Linked DNA regions of Homo sapiens. The protein of the gene in region 3 purifies or fractionates together with the protein of the main gene of each other region. This does not show direct contact. Each region holds a gene or a part of one and is shown on either strand. Other genes may lie near its edges.

Region 1 (5,404 bases), on a different chromosome or scaffold from region 3:
TACTGTGTTTGTGCTATTTCAACCCAATTGACAGGCTGGTGGATTGAGGAGCAGAATAAGAGAAGACTCTGCAGAAGGTTCAGGCTGCAGTAAAGCTGCCCTACCACTTGGGTCTTGTGATCCAACAGATCCAGTGGGACTTTGTCCAACAGGGATGCTGTATGGAGCCTCTGGCAAGCACTGACAGGAGAGAGTACAGACCTCTAGAATTCTAAAGTAAATCTAGAACCTCTTCTGAAGATAACTACTCTCCTTCTGAGAAGCAGGTTCTGCCTTGCTACTAGGCCTTGATAGAGGCAGAATGCCTGACCATGAAGCTTGAGCTCCCATCATGAACTGGATGTCATCTGACCTACGTAGCCATAAAATTGGATGTATACAGCAGCCACCTATCATCAAATGGAAATGGTGTATTAGAAACAGCCCAGGCAGGTTCAGAAGGTATAAGTAAATTGTATGAGCAGGCGGCTCAGACTCTTCCAACATCAACTCCTGTTGCTTTGCCTCCTCTCCCTCATTCTACAACTATGGCTTCTTGGGATGCTGCCTATGTCCAGTTGACTGAGGGAGAAAAACCTCCAGCCTGGATTATAGATGGGTCTGTATGATGTGCTGGTACCACATGAAAGAGAACAGCTGCAGTATTCACTCACACTCACTCAGGGGTGACTGTGAAGGGCAGTGGTGAAGGAGAATCCTTCCAGTGAGCAGAAACTCAAGGCTGTCCACTATGTCTGGAGTGAGAGATGGCCAGAATACAGACCTAAATTGATTCATGGACAGTCGCTGATGGTTTAGCTGGATGGTCAGGGCCTTAAAAAGAACAGGACTGGAAGATTGGTGACAAGAAAATCTTGGAAAGAGATATGTGGCTGAATCCCTCCGAATGGGCAGACTGAAGATATCTGCATCTCACCTGAATGCCCACCAAAGGGCATCCACTGCAGAGAAGACCCTGAATCAGATGGACAGAATTACATGCTCTGTGGCTGTCAGCCAGCCTCTCTATGCAGCTGCTGTGGTGTCTGCTCAACGGGCCGATGAACAAAGAGCTCTTGGCAGCAGGGACAGAGGATATGTATGGGTCCAACAACATGGAATTCTCCCTCCAAAGGCTGAGCTGGCTGGTGCTTCTGCTGAGTGCCTAATCTGCCAAAGCAAATGATTTCTTACAGTGAACTAAATAAGTGTTGTTAGAATATAAATTTCTGTACATCAAATTCCCATTTGAACTGGTTTTGACGTCTTACTGGTTTCCTTATTAATCAGTGAGTTAAAAGCTTGGATACATGTTCATGTTTTATTTGCAAGACAGTCATGATTTTACCTTTTTGTACATTAAACTTTAGCAGCAAGAACATTGTTTTCTCTTAGATTTGCAGTAGCTTTGGGGTAAATGATAAATCCTCTGGAACTGCCATTGGTAACTCAACAATGATGAAAAGAACTAAACAACAAATGAATAAATTAACCTCAACATAGAATTTCCAGTCCACACAATATGAGGCAGTTTGTAATAAGACTCGGTGAAAATCCTGTCTCTGCAACTTGGAAGCTGTGCAGCTATGGGCAAGTTATTCAACTCTCCTAACCTCAATCTCCCCATCTAAAAATGGGGCATCACGGGGCTGTCACAAGGATTACATGAATCGGTATATACAAAGTGCTTAGCACAGTACCTGGCACACAGTAAAAGGTTGTCACTCCACAGAAACTTTTATTTGTAAATGGTAAATCCTCTGGCAACGGTGACTATGCTCACTTGCCCCATTATCAGCCAAAACCAAAATGTGACAATATTGGTCTTACCTATGTGGTTTCTGTTTTATTGAGAATAGCTAGTGACTGCTTATTATTTTTTCCACGTTTTAAGTAACAGCTTTATTGAGATGTAATTCATATACCAAAAAATTCACCCTCTTACAGTCCAGTGGTTTTTAGTCTATTCACAGAATTGTGCAATCACCACCATCTAATTCAGTTCCCCCCGGAGAAACTCAGTGCCCACTAACCGTCACTCCTCACCCTAGCCCTAAGTGACCACCAATCTGCTTTTTGTCTTTATGAGTTTGCTTATTAGGACCTTTCATATACATGGAATCCTACAACATGTGGCTCTTTGTCTCTGGTTTCTTTCCCCTGGCACAATATTTTCAAGGTTCATCCATGTTGCAGCATGTGTCCACGCTTTCTTTCTTTGTATTCCATTCTGTGGATGCGCCATATTTTGTTCATCGATTCATCCACTGTGGAACATTGGGGCTGTTTCAGCTTTGGGCTATTATGAGTAATGCTGCTATGAACATTTGCATTCAAATTTCTGTGTGGACATATGTTTTAATTTCCCTTGGGGAGGCTGCCAATTACCGTGGAAAACACACAGGTTGGAAACAGTGACCTCTGCTTCATGGTTCCTGGTTTCTGACAAAGTTAATCTTTCACCATTGGTGTGCTGGTTAGATAACCTTGGGTTCAAAGACAGACATTTCCTGTTGTCACAGTCTTTACATAAACGCTCATACCATACTTACGATTAGTTGTTTATGTGGGTTAAATTAACCATGGAATCACTCCTGATCCCATCTCCTTACTAGAGGGTCTGCATCTTTTTTTCTGGTCCTATTTTTAAAAATAATGATCTTTAATTGACACATAATTGTATGTATTTATGGGGTACAGTGTGTTATTTTGATACATGTATACAATGTGTAATGATCAGGGTAATTAGCATATTAATCCCTTAAATGTCTATCATTTGTGTTGGGAATGTGAAAGTTGTTAGAATTCAAATAGAGTCACTAGTGTTTTAAAAAAACAAACCATGACAAATAGAGCTGGGGAGGCCATGAAGAGGGGATTCTCATGCTTGTATGCCTAATACCAAAAATGATCACAAAAGATTCTGCAAAAATTACAACCTTGCACATAGGCTGCTGCAACCTCACACAAAAATTACTTCTGCAAAGACATCTGCCTAGCAACTGCCTGTCCAACCTCGGACTGGTGTGACCTTTGTTATTGATATTTGTAGCCAAGGATAATTATTTCAAAACCATTATGTAATCCTCCTCATTTTTTCCTTTAAAAACCTTTGTTTTTCTTTTTTTTTTTCTTTGTTTTTTTGAGTCAGAGTCTCGCTCTGTCGCCCAGGCTGGAGTGCAGTGGTGCCATCTCGGCTCACTGCAAGCTCTACCTCCTGGGTTCATGCCATTCTCCTGCCCCAGCCTCCCGAGCAGCTGGGACTACAGGCACCTGCCACCACGCCCAGCTAATATATATATATATTTTTTTTTAGTACAGACAGGGTTTCACCGTGTTAGCCAGGATGGTCTCGATCTCCTGACCTCGTGATCCACCCGCCTCGGCCTCCCAAAGTGCTGGGATTACAGGCGTGAGCCACCGCGCCCAGTCACCTTTGTTTTTCTTTACCTCCTGGAATATGCACACAGTTTACTACAGCACACATATTCCTGTTGCAATGCCCTACTTTTGATTAAATATCTTTAGCGAGCCTGTCTTTGTTATTTAGGTTGACAGGAACATTCAAAATTCTCTCTTCTAGCTACTTGAAAATACACAGTAAATTATTGTTAGCGATAGTCACCCTACAGTGCCGCCAAACACTAGACTCCTATCTTGCTGCAAATTTGATTCCATTAACCAACTCCTCCCCACCCCCTGCTGCATCCTTTTTCTAATGACATGAACATATTCAGTCATTTCATTTCTTTCACTGGGGTTGGCCCTGTGGCAGCCCACGGGAGGCCAGAGTCCCCTGTGGAGACTGACCAACCCTGAAGGCCAGCCTGGCTCCAGCCAAGTGCTGTCTAGAAGCAGGAGTCTGTGGTATGTCTGGAAGAGTGACCCAATTCTCTCCGGTCACGGATGAGAGGGCAAGTGGTTTAGCATGGCAATCCTTACAAAGGATCCACAGAGACAAGATTCACTCGCGGCCTCCCCAGTGGGCCTCCGGCTCAGATTTCCTGGCCCACCTCAGGCCCGCCCAGTCCAGATCTCAGGGCAGGGCCCTGAAGGCGCAGTGCAGGAACCTGCCATGGGTGGGACGATTCTTCTCAGCAGGCAAGTTTGGGAAATGAAGATCTACAAATCCCCACTCAATCAGCTCTTCCAGGCTTGGGAATGGCCTGGGCCTCAGCCCCAGTCTTCTACCCCACCCACTGTGCCTTCCCCAGGCTTCCAGGCGTCCTCTTTTGAAAGGATTTTCAGGTCACAGGCCTCAGCTGGTCCCTAGCCCTTCCGACTGCCTCTCTGGGACTTCCTCCACCGACCGGGGCTGTCCCAAAGCCTCCTCTGAAGGCTTTCCCTAGGGTGGCTCTCCTCAATCATCCTGTCACCTCTTTCTTTGCCAAGCTCTTCCAAGGCCCTTAGTGGTTTCTGGGAGGTCTCACACAGAGGGGCTGGAAAAGGGCTCATTAGCCCAGATCAGCTGTTCTCAAAGCAAGATCCAGGGCCCCCGAGGGTCCCTGAGACCCTTTCAGGGGGTCCTCACGGTCAAAACTATTTTCATAATAATATTGACACTTTTTTTTTTTGTATGGGTGATTTTTTTATTTTCATCCTCTCAGGAATTTTCCAGAGACTACTGGCATGGGAGAAAGATCACCTTGATGGCTAATGGAACGTGTGCATCTGTATTCTTGTGTTTTATAACTTTTTCTCAGTCTTAATTTCTAATACAATAAATATGGATAGATACAATCCACAATGAGCAAGTTATTTGGGGTCCTCAATAACTTTTAAGGGTGTAGGCTGGGCACGGTGGCTTACACCTGTAATCCCAGCACTTTGGGAGGCCAAGGTGGGAGGATCACCTGAGGTTGGGAGTTCGAGACCAGTGTGACCAACATGGAGAAACCTGGTCTCTACTAAAAATACAAAATTAGCCGGGCGTGGTGGTGCATGCCTTGTAATCCCAGCTACTCGGGAGGCTGAGGCAGGAGAATCGCTTGAACCCAGGAGGCGGAGGTTGAAGTGAGCCCGAGATCGCGCCACTGCACTCCAGCCTGGGCAACAAGAGCAAAACTCCACGTAAAAAAAAAAAAAAAAAAAAAGTGTACAGAGATCCTAAGACCAAAAAGTTTGAGAACCACTAGCCCAGACGAAGCTCTAACTGATGAGAATTACTAATTTGCTATATGAGTGGGGGCTGCCTATGGATGGGGAGGAGATGGGGAGAAAAGAAAGAGCTGGGGGAAGGGGAATGGGGAGGAGATGGGGAGAAAAGGAAGTGCTGGGGGAAGGGGAATGGGAAGGGAGGAGGAGGGAGGGAGAAACAGCAGAAGGGGAAGGAAGGAGACCAGGAGAGAGGTGGAACAGGGAGACAGAGGAAGAGGAGATGAGGAATGGGGGAAGATTGAGAAGGGTTAGAAAAAGGAGTCCGGAT
Region 2 (5,111 bases), on a different chromosome or scaffold from region 3:
TTTATTTTTATACTTTTAACATAAGCCTGCCTAATTATTCTTCATTAACTAGGAAAAGGAGTGGCTGCTCTTCATAATAGAGTGTTATTGGAAATGAACGTTGCTACCACTATTACATCACTAAAAAAGTAGAAACATCATTCTCCCTGTAGGAATAAAGGAGTAAAGTTTAACATAATTAACTTTTTTTTTTTAAATAAGGGGAGGAATAGGCTAAAAGAGGAAGAAAGAGAAAGGGAGGGAGAAGTGGAGAGAGGGATGAAAGAGAGGAAAAACGGAGAGAGGAGAGAAAACCTACTGTACCTCATTCTTTAATTGATATGAAGCCAATCTGTGTACCAAAATTAAGGCCATCTCGGACATGGGAGAAAAACTTGTCAGGATGGCAAGATGTACAGAGGTTGAGATCTTGGTTCTGGTCCTGAATATTCTGTGGAAGAATTCCTCCCTGTTCTAGAAGAATCCTTAGGAAAAATATTTTTCAAAAGAGAGCAAGAGTTTATTTTCCCAATAGCCAAAGCAATATGAAAAAAAGTATGGATGTTGGCATGAAAAAGTTCCAGGAAAGATGTACCTAGAACAATGTATATTGTTATTCACTTACAGAACATGGACTAGTCAGGGAAAAAAATGCTACACTTTATCAGCATTTATCACCTAAGTTCATATATGCACAGTACAACCTTCCATATTGTCTTATAGACATAATCTAGGTACAGAATTTTATAATCAAAATCAAGTGCTTATTTAAGAAGAAATGTCTACAAAAGTTACCAGGATATCAGGCAAAATTCACCTGGCTCAGCCAGAGTATGCTTTTTAGTCATCTGGCCCTTCATCTCCTTTCCTTCTATTAGCCAGATTTTTCTCAGAAAACTTGCTTCTCCATGAACACTTTATGATATGAAATATGACTACAAGTTAGTGATACTTGATTTTAAAAGTCACATTTAAGAATCAATTTCAAACTTTTCCACATCTGTACTAAATGAGGCAGACTCTGGGTAAAGTTTTGGCGACTGGAATAGAAACATGATTTAAAACATACATTAATTTGCCTTTGTAGTAATGACAAATAATTTTCACCAGTTATTAATAACAAAACCTTGTAAATTAAAAGATGCGAAGAACTGTAAAAAACTTAAAAGTAAAAAACCGTGTATTTATATTATCTAATATTTTTTCTAAAAAACATATTCCTCTAGTTAATTAGATAATAAGAATAATTTTAAAATATCAGCTTCCTGATAGTTCATTACATTTAGGAGAATTTAGCTGAGGAATGGCTGTGAAGTAAAGTACACGCCAACTTTTCTATATGAAGTTTAAGTAGATCTCTTAAAATTAAATGCCAAATATTTCTTCCTTCACTTTTAAATCAATGAAAGATACCAGACAGGAAAATTTCTGTTATTCAAACTCAAATGAAAACAGATTTCATATTTAAAATGAGTGTTTGTGTACATGTGCATGTCAGCTGCTTAAATAACCACCACCTAAATTCTTCTTAGAGTTATTAATTGTTCTCCAAAATAAATTTCATTTTAGAACAATCAGAAATAATCAAACTTGCAGTTGAATGAAATCAGACATACCTTGTGGCTTTACGGATGTCGATACAGGGATTTGGTGAATCAAATAGTTGTACACATGCAGGATGAAGATTATGAAATGCCTCTGCTGATTCCCTTGGAAGAGTAAAACAGCAAGGTCCTACTGAAGGTCCAAGTACAACAACAATGTCTTCCAAACTGCAGCCATATTCTGCTATCATAGCATTCACTGTAGCCATAGCAACACCCAACAAAGTACCTTTCCAACCTGGTAAATAGGAATAAAAAGAGATAAGAGAAGTCAAAACATAAAAAATTTCACCTGAATTTATGTCTAAGTTAAAAGTGAGCAGATTTAGTTTGTATATTTTTCAAAGTCCAGAAATAATAAATTACATTATCATGTGGTTTTTAAATGAGCCATACTACACAAAGCACCTGACACAGAAGAGACATGTAATGGGAGTTTTCTTCATCTTCCATTTAAAGATGCTCTATACTTTTAGTTTCCACTGAGATCATAGCTTCTTAGTCTTCTATTTTTCACATTTTAAAAGATTGTGGTTAAAAACCCACAAAATTTACTATTATAACCACAAAAAAATACTATTCTAAGTATACAGTTCAGTAGTGTTGAACTCACATTGTTGTATAACCAATCTCCAGAATTTTTTCATTTGATAAAATGGAAACTCTACAACTATTAACAATAACTCCTTGTTTCTTCCTTTTACCAGCCCCTGGCAATCACCATTCTTCTTCCAGTTCCTGTACATTTGATTACTGTAGGTATATCATATAAGTGAAATCAATACAGTATTTATCTTTTTGTGACTGACTGATTTCACTTAGCATAATGTCCTTAAGGTTCATCTATATTGTAGTATGTGTCAGAATATCCTGCCTTTTTAAAGCTAAATAATATTCCATTGTATGCACACACATTTTGCTTATCCATTCATCTACCAATGTACCTTAGATTGCTTTCACCTTTTGGCTATTGCGAATAATCGTGTTATCAACATTGGTGTGCAAATATCTCTTTGAGTTCCTGATTTCAGTTATTTTGGATATACTTCCAGAAGAGGAATTTCTGGATTATATGGTAATCTATTTATAATTTTTTGAGAAATTGCCATACTGTTTTCTATAGTGGCTACACAATTTCACATTCCCACCACCAGTGCACCAGGATTTCAACTTCTCCATATCCTCAACAACACTTATTTTCTGAGGTTTTAAAATATTAGCCATCCTAATGGATGTGGGGTGATATTTCACTGTGGTTTTGATTTGCGTTTCTCTAACTTCTAATCCATGAACACAGAATTTCTCTGCATTTATTTGTGTCTTCTTTAATGTCCTTCAGCAATGTTTTGCAGTTTTCATCTCTCCCTTTTTACAAAAATATATCTATTATATTTCAATTAACAGCCTCTTTTTACTCCCTTCCCACTTGCCCAGACTATCGTTCCCTTGCCATCTTTGTCTTATCTGCCTTGCATCTTACAGTGTTCTAAGATAAAACCATCTTCTTTACTTATGCTACCTTCTTGTTGCCAAAGACAGAAAGCTAAGAATATTGCATTTTTCCTTTATTCCCTATATCTGGGTTTGATTCAGCTGATATGGTTGGCCAATAATGAGTACCCTTACACCTTCCTTAAGCACTCCATACTCATACCCTTCAAAAGGTAGGCACTCAGGTGAAGGGATCAATTTTTACAGATAAAAGGAGATGATGAAAGCAAGAAGGACTTAGGTGACAGGTTCAGCCTCTACAGGTAACCCACTGAATATGTGGTTATGGGAAGTACAGAATGAAGACATCAAGTTTCTATCTGTAAGTGGGTAGGATATCAATAATTAAAACAGGAAACCTAACTGGCAGAGAAGACTTTAGGAAAAAAATGTTGAGTTTTTGACATAATGATTTTCAGGCACCTAGGAAGATGCAGACAGTGATGTTCAAAGGGAAGCAACTAGATATAGGCATTTTGAGTTAAAGAGAGAAACTGTCAGGGCTTTTCTACAGATGAGAGTAGCTCTCTTCCTCAGTGAGCCTCCTTAGTTATCCTCTCACTTGTAGTTCATCCACCTCCTTTCTATTTGATTTTTCTATGCCTATCTATATATACATATCTAGTTAAAAGATCTTTATTAAATTAGTCCCATAGAAGAATTTTATTCTTTTTGATATCTGATAAAAGTAGTATACAATGTAGCTAATTATATTATATTTTAAAGTTAATTTATTTTTATTCTTCCAACTTTTTAGGTTCGGGGTACATATATGCAGGTTTGTTACATGGGTAAATTGCATGTCACTGGGGTTTCGTGTACAAACGATTTCATCACCCAAGTAGTGGACATAGTACCGAACAGACAGTTCTTCAGTCGTCACCCTCCTCCCACCCACCACCCTTAAGTAAGCCCCCATGTCCATTGTCCCTTTTTTTGTGTCCATGTGTACTCAATGTGTAGCTCCCACTTAAAGGATACATATGGTATCTGATTTTCTGTTCCTGCATTAATTCATTTAGGATGGCTTCCAGCTGCATCTATGTTGCTGTAAGGATATGATTTCATTCTTTTTTATGGCTTTATAGTATTCCATTATGTATATGTACCATATTTTCTTTATCCAGTCCACCACTGATGGGCATCTAAGTTGATTCCATGTCTTCATTATTGTGAAAAGTGCTGTGATGAACATACGTGTGCATGTGTCTTTATGGCAGAATAATTTATATTCCTTTGGGTATATACCCAGTAATGGGATTGCTGGGTTGAATGGTAGTTCTAATTTTAAGTTCTTTGAGAAATATACAAACTGCTTTCCACAGTGGCTGAACTAATTTACATTCCCACTAGCAGTGTGTAAGCATTTCCTTTTCTCCACAATCTCACCAACATCTGTTGTTTTTTGACTTTTTTTATAACAGCCATTCTGACTGGTATGAAATGGTATCTCATTGTAGTTGTGATTTGCATTTCTCTAATGATTAGTAATATCAAGCGTTTTTTCATATGCTTGTTGACCACGTGTAAGTCTTCTTTTGAGAAGCGTTTGTTCATGTCCTTTGCCCATTTTTTAATGGGATTGATTGTTATTTGTTTGTTGATTTAAGTTCCTTATAGAGTCTCGGTGTTAGACCTTTTCAGCTGCATAGTTTGCAAATATTTTCTCCAATTCTGTAGGTTTTCTGTTTACTCTGTTGATAGTTTCTTTTGCTGTGCAGAAGCTCCTTAGTTTAATTGGGTCCCACTTGACTATTTTTGTTTTTGTTTGCTCTTGAAGTCTTCACCATGAAATCTTTGCCAAGGCCTATGCCTATGTCCAGAATGGCATTTCCTAGGTTTCCTCCTAGGGTTTTAATAGTTTTAGGCTATATGTTTAAGTCTTTAACCCATGTTGAGTTAGTTTTTGTATATGGTGAAAGGAAGGGATCTAGTATCAATTTCCTACATATGGCTAGCCAGTTATGCCAGCACCATTTATGGAACAGGGATTCCTTTCCTCATTGCTTGTTATTGTCGACTTTGTCAAAGATCAGA
Region 3 (5,111 bases):
ATTAGATTTGTGGATTTGTGTTGTCACTTGTTAGAGAATATCGGTGGTTTATTAAAGTGTGAGAGCAAAGGGCTTCATGGTCAGAAAACTTGAGGAAGTGGTTAGCCAATATCAAATTAGTTTTTTTTAAAATTAGAATTATGTGATTTATTGTGTTTTGCTTTGTTTTGGAGTTTTATGTCAGCTTAAGCTTAACCTAGGAAGGCAAGTTGTGAAAGCAAGTAAATTTTTCTGAGCCCTAACTTGGAAGAGAAGCTTGTTTAACAGTGATTTGGGGTGTTGGCTTTGGAGTCAGACAGACTTAGATGAAAATATTAGCTATTTAACCTTTTTCAGTCTGATTTATAAGATGGGGATAATAATGGTCTCTATCTGTAGGGCTTTACAGAAAGTATATGAAAACTTTGTCTTTGGAAAACACTTAAACTGGACTTAACACGCAGTACATGGTCAAAATTATTAGATATTTATCTAGCTTGTTCAAGCAGCAGGCTACTGGATAAATTGCAGGGTGGCAGCTTGAACCTTCCGGAAATGCTAGATAGAGCAATTTCAAATTCTACAGAAAGTAACTGGTGTGTGTGTGTTTGTGTGTGTGTATGTGTGATGTTTCTACCACAGCAATATGAATAATTATGATTAAAGGATTAATAGTTTTAATATGCTTTTAGTGCTAAAGTTACAGTTGCATAGTAATTTTGACAGTCAGAAACATTGCATTATCCTTTACATTTAAAGAGAATTTATATTTCAAATAGTTGTGTTTATTAGCCCTAGGTAAGAAATTAAGCCAGGAACAGAAGTATTCATCTTTAACCAAGTGTAATTCTTAATCAAAGTATGAAAACATGTGACCCAAGGGTATCCGGTTATTTACTTTTGCATGTGCTGATGTCCAAGGCCAACAGATAAGCCATAAGAAGTGTTAGGCTGATTGTGAGTCGTTGTTTTATTTGTAAACTTTCATGAGATTGGGTGTTCAGTTAATTCAGGAAATCTACTCATCACATTGTTGACTCATTTCCTAAAATCTAAAAAATTTTTTAAATGCCTTCATCTTGCCAGGCGCTGTGGCTCACACCTATAATCCCAGCACTTTGGGAGGCCAAGGTGGGCGGATCACCTGAGGTCGGGAGTTCAAGACCAGCCTGACCCACATGGAGAAACCCCATCTCTACTAAAAATACAAAATAAACCAGGCGTGATGGCGCATGCCTGAAGTCCCAGCTACTCGGGATGCTGAGGCAGGAGAATCACTTGAACCCAGGAGGCGGAGGTTGCGGTGAATCGAGATCGTGCCATTGCACTCCAGCCTGGGCAACAAGAGCAAAAACTCTGTCTCAAAAAAAAAAAAAAAAAAAGCCTCCATCTTTAAAACAAACCCTTTAAAGCTTCTTGTTTTTGTCCTAATGCACGTCAGGTGCACAGAATTGGGCTGAACCAGGATCTTAGCTCATGCCACAGATGATTTCTCATTTTACTAATTGCTCCACTGGGACACAGAGATGTGGTTTATAATAATTTTAAATAACTATAAAGGGTACAGTGTGATTATTAATTGTTTCTTGCCTATGACATTATGCTCTGAAACAACTGAAGCATTTGATTGAGTAAATTATTGATTCGTTTCACTCCTAGAACATAACATAATGATTTCTGGCTCATACTTCTAGGTGAGTAGACTGTGAGCAAGTTACTTAATCTATGCTTCAATAAGTGTTGTGAGGAATAAATGAGCTAATCTATGTATATAGCATTTGGAATAGTGCCTGGTGCATAGTCCACATTCAATAAATGTTAACATTAAATTATTGAAATTTTCTCTAAATGTTGTATAATGAGCATGCATTATTTTTGTAACAGGAAAACAGCTATACAAAATTTTAATATTTCCCCCAAATCTAAAAAAAGCTCAGTAATTTAAATAGTCCTGCCAAATAGTACTTAAAAAGTAAGAGAATTAGACAATCATCATTTTGTCTTTTAAATGTGAAATGGTTTGCAATATTAATTTGTTAAACAAGTTAATTCTTCCAAATCTCAATTCCATTTTCTTTTTTATTAGAGACTTTAAAAAATCAGTAATACATGAAGTCTGTTACAGTTTAAAATGGGGAAAAGCAGTATGCACAGTTACATTGTGTTATTACAATTACAGCTAGCTTAAAAATTATTTTTAAACCATAAGAAAAGCCTAGAAGAAAATACAGACAAATTGGTGATGGGATTATGGTGCTCTCCCACCCCCAACCTGCTTTTCCCCTATTTTCCACAATGCGCCTATATATATACTAAAATATAATTCATTTGTGTAATAGTTACTAAACAAATCTGGTTTATTAACTACAAATACTAAAAAAAATTTGCGTAATAGTTACTAAAAAACAAATCTGGCTTGTTAACTACAAATAGCAGGATTTTATTGTTGTTTTGGAAAAAGCACCAACTTTATGGCAGTTGAATGTCCTTCGGTTAAATGTCAAAACCTTTGCAGTGAGAATTGTTTAGCGGTAAAAGAGAAGGCCTTTCAGAAGCTTGTAGTTTGATCTTCATGAAGAATATTTGAAAAGTCTACCAGTGGGTTTTTAGGATCTGCATATAGACCTAGTCCACCAACCTTGACTTTATGGAAGTTGTGACTTCCCAGATCCAGGCCTGCCTTGATGAGCTGCGTTTTTACAGCACCTTCAGTATATCAGACACCTGGAAGACAGTAATGAGGCAGATATTGGTGCACTTAGTTTAACAGGAAGGTTGGATAGATAAAAACTAATTACAGCACAATTGTATATATTATATATCCTGAGCCCTTTCTAAACTCTTCCCGTATACAGTCTTGCTCAGTTGTCACAACAGCCCAGAGGAGGAAGCTGAGGTTCCTTAAAGGTCTGAACCTTGCTCAAGTTGCAAGGACAGAATTTGACCCAGAAGCATCTTAACTCCACATCTCATGCCCTCTGCACGGAGATGGAGGTGCATCCAGCCAGAGGTGAGAGTGAAGTGGGCTTTATGGAGTCAGTTTTGCTTAAAAACTATAAAACTAATCAAGAGAAACATGAGGAGGAGACTCCTTTTAGGTGACCTTCCTGAGGAGAATCATCAGTGCCTCTCCATCAGGCTTGCCACTCTTTAGCCATAGCAGTTAACACTTCCAAATGGCTGCTGAGACCCAGCAGGCCTGAAGCGCACACAAAGGCCCAGTCCTTGGTGACCCTGTGAAGCCTACCTCTTTCATCCCTGGACTTCCAAAGGGGGTCTGGATAGTACAGATGAAGGAACTGACTCGCTAAATCCTGTTCTAGAACCAGCACATACCCACAGATCCTGACCTCCCCACTTTCCTCCCTTAGGAATGACAGGAGAGTAGTTAACAGGTAGCATGGATCCAGGGCAGATGGTGGAGGTGACTTGACTTAAGATAACTTGTAGCTAGATTATTCCATTTATTGGAGAGTCTCTCTTGAAAATCATATCTGATGTCACTTAAGTGTTTGGTTTATCATGTTAGTCTTTATTGGGTGTCGTAAAAGTGCTCAGTTGTGAAGTGTCTGGTTACCATCCTGTGACAAGGAGGGTTTTTGTCTTCTTTTAATGGGTCTGCATTTCAGAGAATTACTGTATAATAAAAACTGGAGTGTTGGCTGGGTGCAGTCGCTCACGCCTGTAATCCCAGCACTTTGGGAGGCCGAGGCGGGTGGATCACAAGGTCAGGAGAGCGAGACCATCCTGGCTAACATGATGAAACCCCGTCTCTACTAAAAATACAAAAAATTAGCCGGGCGTGGTGGCGGTCGCCTGTAGTCCCAGCTACTTGGAAGGCTGAGGCAGGAAAATGGCGTGAACCTGGGAGGCAGAGCTTGCAGTGAGCCGAGATCGTGCCACTGTACTCAAGCCTGGGCAACAGAGCAAGATGCCATCTTAAAAAAATAAAAAAAAAAACTGGAGTGTTGGAGACTGTTAAGAATTAATACTTTCAGTTCTGCCAGAGGGTTAGTATCTAGAAGTTCTAAGAGATTGGTTGCTAAAATCTTCTGTAATTTTCAGTTTCATTGATTGTATAATAAGTGGGTGACTTTGGGCCCAGAGAGTCAGAAGGCTTTGTATTCTGTATGCTTTCTGACACAGTAGGCCACCACTCCCCTTGCAGGCAAGGTCATGTAATTGACATAGGATCCCCTTTAGTTGACCGAAGAGAGAAGTATAAGCTCTGGTTGAACTTGAGTTTGCGTGATCACACATGCTCACTGGAGTGAAGTCTGAATCAGTTGCCATCTCTGCACTTGCATTGTGTGTAGAGAATTGTCTTGATTCAGAATGGCTTTGTGCAAACTCACATGAGCCCATTGGAGGCAGAATCTTAACTTCATTGATGTGAAATAATCAGGCTTTTATTTAGCTTCAGATGGCACTAGCCAAGACGTCCTTGACCACTGGACACTAAACCCTTAACTCCCCACTGGGACCCTTTGACTCAGACCCCAAGCTTGCAGTTACCTCAAATTTTGTGTTGTTTTGGGGGGATAAATTATTGCAGAGGAAAAACATAAGGTTTTTTCTCAAATGAAGACTCAAACTGAAATCCATTAAATCCCAACATGAGCTAAATCTAAGGGTGGAAAGAGGAATCAAAATCTAAAAGCCTCTTGGACTTTATTGAGGCTTATTGAAGACCTTATTGAGATAACATCATCATACCAAGTTTAACCAGAATCTCAGGCAAATTAGAAAGGTGTAACCTTTAGACTAGGTGCCTGAGCTGTGCCTAGACTAATGAAATCTTCTGAATTATTAGACCATGGCCTGCACATTAGACCATGGGGCTTCATGTGGGTATATAAGGTCATGATTGGCTGTGCAGATAAGTTGTCATGGGAGGGTTGGATGTCTGGCCAAGAAGCAGAAGGAATGGATTGTGACTTCTTGACAGGGATACCTTGAACTGTTATACAGGTTGTTCACTGCACAAAAGTGCCTGGGCAAGGAGGCAAATGGGAGGCTCACATCTGCTAAACAAACAAAACCACATGCATCCTGGAGTAGGATTGCCTCTGCTAGGAGAAAAGGGAACTTCTTTCTGATGCTATCAAGCCTGCAAAAGTCTAGGTGTACAT
Region 4 (3,500 bases), about 44 Mb from region 3:
ACATTGCCTACCTCACAGCAGCAGATGGTTCAGTGATGAGGGCAAGTTCGAACTATAATATTTGGTTAGAAATGCTGAAAGGCCCCAGCCTAGGTTCTTCCTCATCTCTCTGAACTATAGAAAAATCTAAAGGGAACACAGAATAGAGTTTCTCAATCCCTCTCCCATTCCTAAATTGGGTTGTCTTGATTCCAATTACTATTCCAGCCTCAGCAAAGAACAATTAATTCTTGATTAAGACTACTGTGATTCTGGCATAGCCATATACTACTTTAAGAACGTTGCAAAGTGGTGTGAATAAGAGTTTTTGAAAAATTATATATATATATATATGAATGAATTAGGGGGCTCTTTAGCCAAGCAGTATGTCCTGGTGTCTGTTTTCAAATTTAAGGCCAAGAGGTGAATTTTTGAAAGTATCTCTCTATACTTCAGGCATTCAAAACTCACAAAAAAATTTACAAGGCAAAAGTTGTGTGAGGAACTATTAACTACCAAAGAAATCCTGTAGCTGGATTATTGGGTTATAAAGAGAAAAATATTAAAAGAAACTCAAATTATCTGCTCCATTCTCCCCACTCTCAAGAACTGAGCATAAAGTTTGTATGTTTTCCAAAAAGTAAAGATTCTTGAGATGGCTAATGCATTTCATTTTATGGTTTTTCTATGTTTGTTTTTATAAACCCTCGTTTATAAACTCTCTGCTTTAACAAGACTGCTATGAAAAAGTATCTCTGCTGCATTGGAAACTAATCCAGAGGAAGTTTAATAGCATGTAGGTTCTCACAAACATGTAGTGTACTGTCCTCTGGCTCCCAAAGGGAGAAGTCCTATGCACTGGACTCAGGCCCAACCCAGCCCCACCGGAGCCTGGAGTCTGATGAACTTGGTTGGTGGGTCCCATGGAGGTAAGGACAAGGACAGCAAGGAACCACATCCCGTAAGGCCAATTATCTTGTAGATAGTGACCTCATGTCACTGTTCTGCTAGCCAAACATATTCACAATTTCTAACAAATTCTTTATCAAAATCACTTTTTTTCTTTAATTATTGCTGAAAGACTTGTTCCCCCAGTAGGATGCAAACTTCTTCAGGGCAGGAATAGTGTCTGTCTGAGTGACTGTTACCTGAGGGCCTGACACAGTGCCAGACACACAATAGTCAATAAATATTTGCTGAATAAATACAATTTATAAATTTCTTGTTTTTATGTACTTGTTAAAAATGGTTTCACATAAAAAAACAAGCTTTGGCATTCTTGATTATCTGTAAAATACAGAAGTTGAAGCAAGCTTAATTTTTTTTTACCTGCCAGGTGTTTAAAGTAACCTGGTCATTTTTAAAAGTCAAATAGTCTATAAGCATAATATTAGTCAAGAAAAAGTGGCCAGCAGAACCACAGGCCAGAGAGAATAGCAAAAACAGAGGACTCATAACTTAACCCACTCTCACTCTCACCTATGTAGTTAAGTGATCTGAATTCTGACTGATTACCTGTAATGCTACAAATGGCAAAAGCAACGGCAGGAAAGAAGCCCACTCTGTTGTTTTTATTTTTTTAAAAGGCTTATGTTAAGGTTAACAAAAGCAAGGGAACTATTTAAGGTTGACTGGTGGGGACAGTTGGAAATTGCTCTAAATTTTTAGGGGCCCAGTAAACTAGTAAACTGTTGGCCCTTTACACCCAGGCATGCAGCTTATTTGCTAAGTATTCTTGTCCACAGCTGTTTTCAAGATAGTGGAGTGCTTAACCCAGTGACCCCACCCCCATGCCCCACACAAAAGCCTTGTGCATCAGCTGTATCAGGCCTAAAGGACTGAGTGAATTCCAGGTACATGTCCATACCCACACAGATTACCCACTTATGAGTCATGCACCAAAGGTGAGGTAAGACTCAGAACACAATTCTGTGATATCCATAAAAACATATTATTTTCCAACTTGACTTTACAACCTATTTATATACATTTGGGTAAATAATTATTACAATATAAGGTGATGTAACAATTTTTACACACCACTTTATCGCATATCACTTAGAGGCTTAGCAGGATTTTACACACATTCTTCAATTTTAGCTTCCTCTTTTACAATAAGGTAAATTTAAGTATCCTCATACAGCCATCAAAGTGACCTTATGCAAGCTAAAAAATATAGTTTCCAGGAATTACTTAGTGTTTCCTATAAAATTATGGAATCAAGATTGCTTAAAAGATAAAAATTTTTTCTTAAAAGTCTGGCTGTTAACTTAAAGCAAACTAAAAAGGCACTTGTTTGTGCTGCCCAGCAGTTGTAGGTTACCTCATTAACATTGATCTTTGACTTTGCAGAAGATTCTAAAAAGGCACAGTTACACCACTGTCTTGCTAAATTCTGGCCCTGCTCTTTGCCAACTACTCGCTCATCTTCCAGGTCACATTTATTGCCAACCAAAATCATTGGAACCTGTGGGAAGAAAAAAACGTAAAATGAACAATAACATACTCATTACTTAGCCTTTTAAAAAAATAAATAAGCAATTATCTGCCACCAACTGAAATGCATTAGTTGGGACCGCAAGCTTCATCAAATACTAACGAAAAGTATATGTTGAGGGGAAGAGGCGAAGGAAGAAGGAAGAGACAAAAAAAAAAAAAAAATGGAAGAGATCCTACTACATAGATATGCCAAATTATTTTAAGAATATAATCCTGGCCAGGCACAATGGTTCATGCCTGTAATCCCAGGGAGGCTGAGGTAGGAGGACTGCTTGAGCTCAGGAGCCTGAGACAAGCCTGGGTAACATAGTGAGACCTGGTCTCTACTAAAAAATTCAAAAACAATCAGCCAGGCAGGGTGGCACACACCTGTAGTCCCAACTACTCAGGGGGTTGAGGTGGGAAGATCACTTGAGCCCGGGAGGTAGACTGTGATGTGTGAATTATACCAATGGAATTTTAGAAATAAAAACACACCACTATGGATCTTAATAATGTTCTTTGAACACTGTTTCTGACACAACCATCACCTTTCAAAGCTCAACTCAGGTCCCACTTCTATGAAGTATTCTTTGGCTCCTCTTTTTCCTCTACTGCACTTTTTAACCTATAGCACAATGAGTACTTTATCACATATGTCCTCATTTTCTAAACATCTCACCACATAATTTTGAGGTTAATTTTGAAAGTTAAATTTTTTTCTTTTGGTCACAGGGGCTCTTTCAGGCATGTGGTAGATAGCTTCCAAATCCTCTACTAATAGAGAAAACAGGCACTTTTTTATTTGGCCACAGAGAGATGGCATAACATCTTACAGAGAGAAAAAATACTTACATCTTCCGTGTCCTTAACCCGTAAAATCTGTTCCCTCAGGTCCTGTAAGTCGTTAAACGTGGACTGAGCTGTAATAGAATATACTAGTGCAAAACCTTGGCCGTTCTTCATATACAAATCCCTCATTGCTGTAAATTGCTCCTATGATTTAAAAAATATGCAATTATAAATATATAAATTTCTTGAAT

What was found.
Region 1: the proteins of GNG12 (region 3) and GNB5 purify together in Homo sapiens (co-immunoprecipitation; one large-scale study listed by IntAct). This does not show direct contact.
Region 2: the proteins of GNG12 (region 3) and LACC1 purify together in Homo sapiens (affinity purification with mass spectrometry; one large-scale study listed by BioGRID and IntAct). This does not show direct contact.
Region 4: the proteins of GNG12 (region 3) and RAP1A fractionate together in Homo sapiens (co-fractionation; one large-scale study listed by BioGRID). This does not show direct contact.

Annotation. Positions count from the first base shown.
Region 1 is NC_000015.10:52,113,819-52,119,222, forward strand, and holds the end of GNB5 (guanine nucleotide-binding protein subunit beta-5), read right to left. Parts: 3' UTR 1,282-5,404; downstream 1-1,281. UniProt on the Homo sapiens protein: Enhances GTPase-activating protein (GAP) activity of regulator of G protein signaling (RGS) proteins, such as RGS7 and RGS9, hence involved in the termination of the signaling initiated by the G protein coupled receptors (GPCRs) by accelerating the GTP hydrolysis on the G-alpha subunits, thereby promoting their inactivation.
Region 2 is NC_000013.11:43,885,467-43,890,577, reverse strand, and holds part of LACC1 (purine nucleoside phosphorylase LACC1), read right to left. Parts: exon of another isoform or gene 3,788-5,111; intron 1,822-3,787; coding exon 1,596-1,821; intron 465-1,595; coding exon 305-464; 3' UTR 304-304; exon of another isoform or gene 299-303; intron 1-298. UniProt on the Homo sapiens protein: Purine nucleoside enzyme that catalyzes the phosphorolysis of adenosine, guanosine and inosine nucleosides, yielding D-ribose 1-phosphate and the respective free bases, adenine, guanine and hypoxanthine.
Region 3 is NC_000001.11:67,826,253-67,831,363, reverse strand, and holds part of GNG12 (guanine nucleotide-binding protein G(I)/G(S)/G(O) subunit gamma-12), read left to right. Parts: intron 1-5,111. UniProt on the Homo sapiens protein: Guanine nucleotide-binding proteins (G proteins) are involved as a modulator or transducer in various transmembrane signaling systems.
Region 4 is NC_000001.11:111,703,289-111,706,788, reverse strand, and holds part of RAP1A (ras-related protein Rap-1A precursor), read right to left. Parts: intron 3,454-3,500; coding exon 3,313-3,453; intron 2,447-3,312; coding exon 2,303-2,446; intron 1-2,302. UniProt on the Homo sapiens protein: Counteracts the mitogenic function of Ras, at least partly because it can interact with Ras GAPs and RAF in a competitive manner. Together with ITGB1BP1, regulates KRIT1 localization to microtubules and membranes.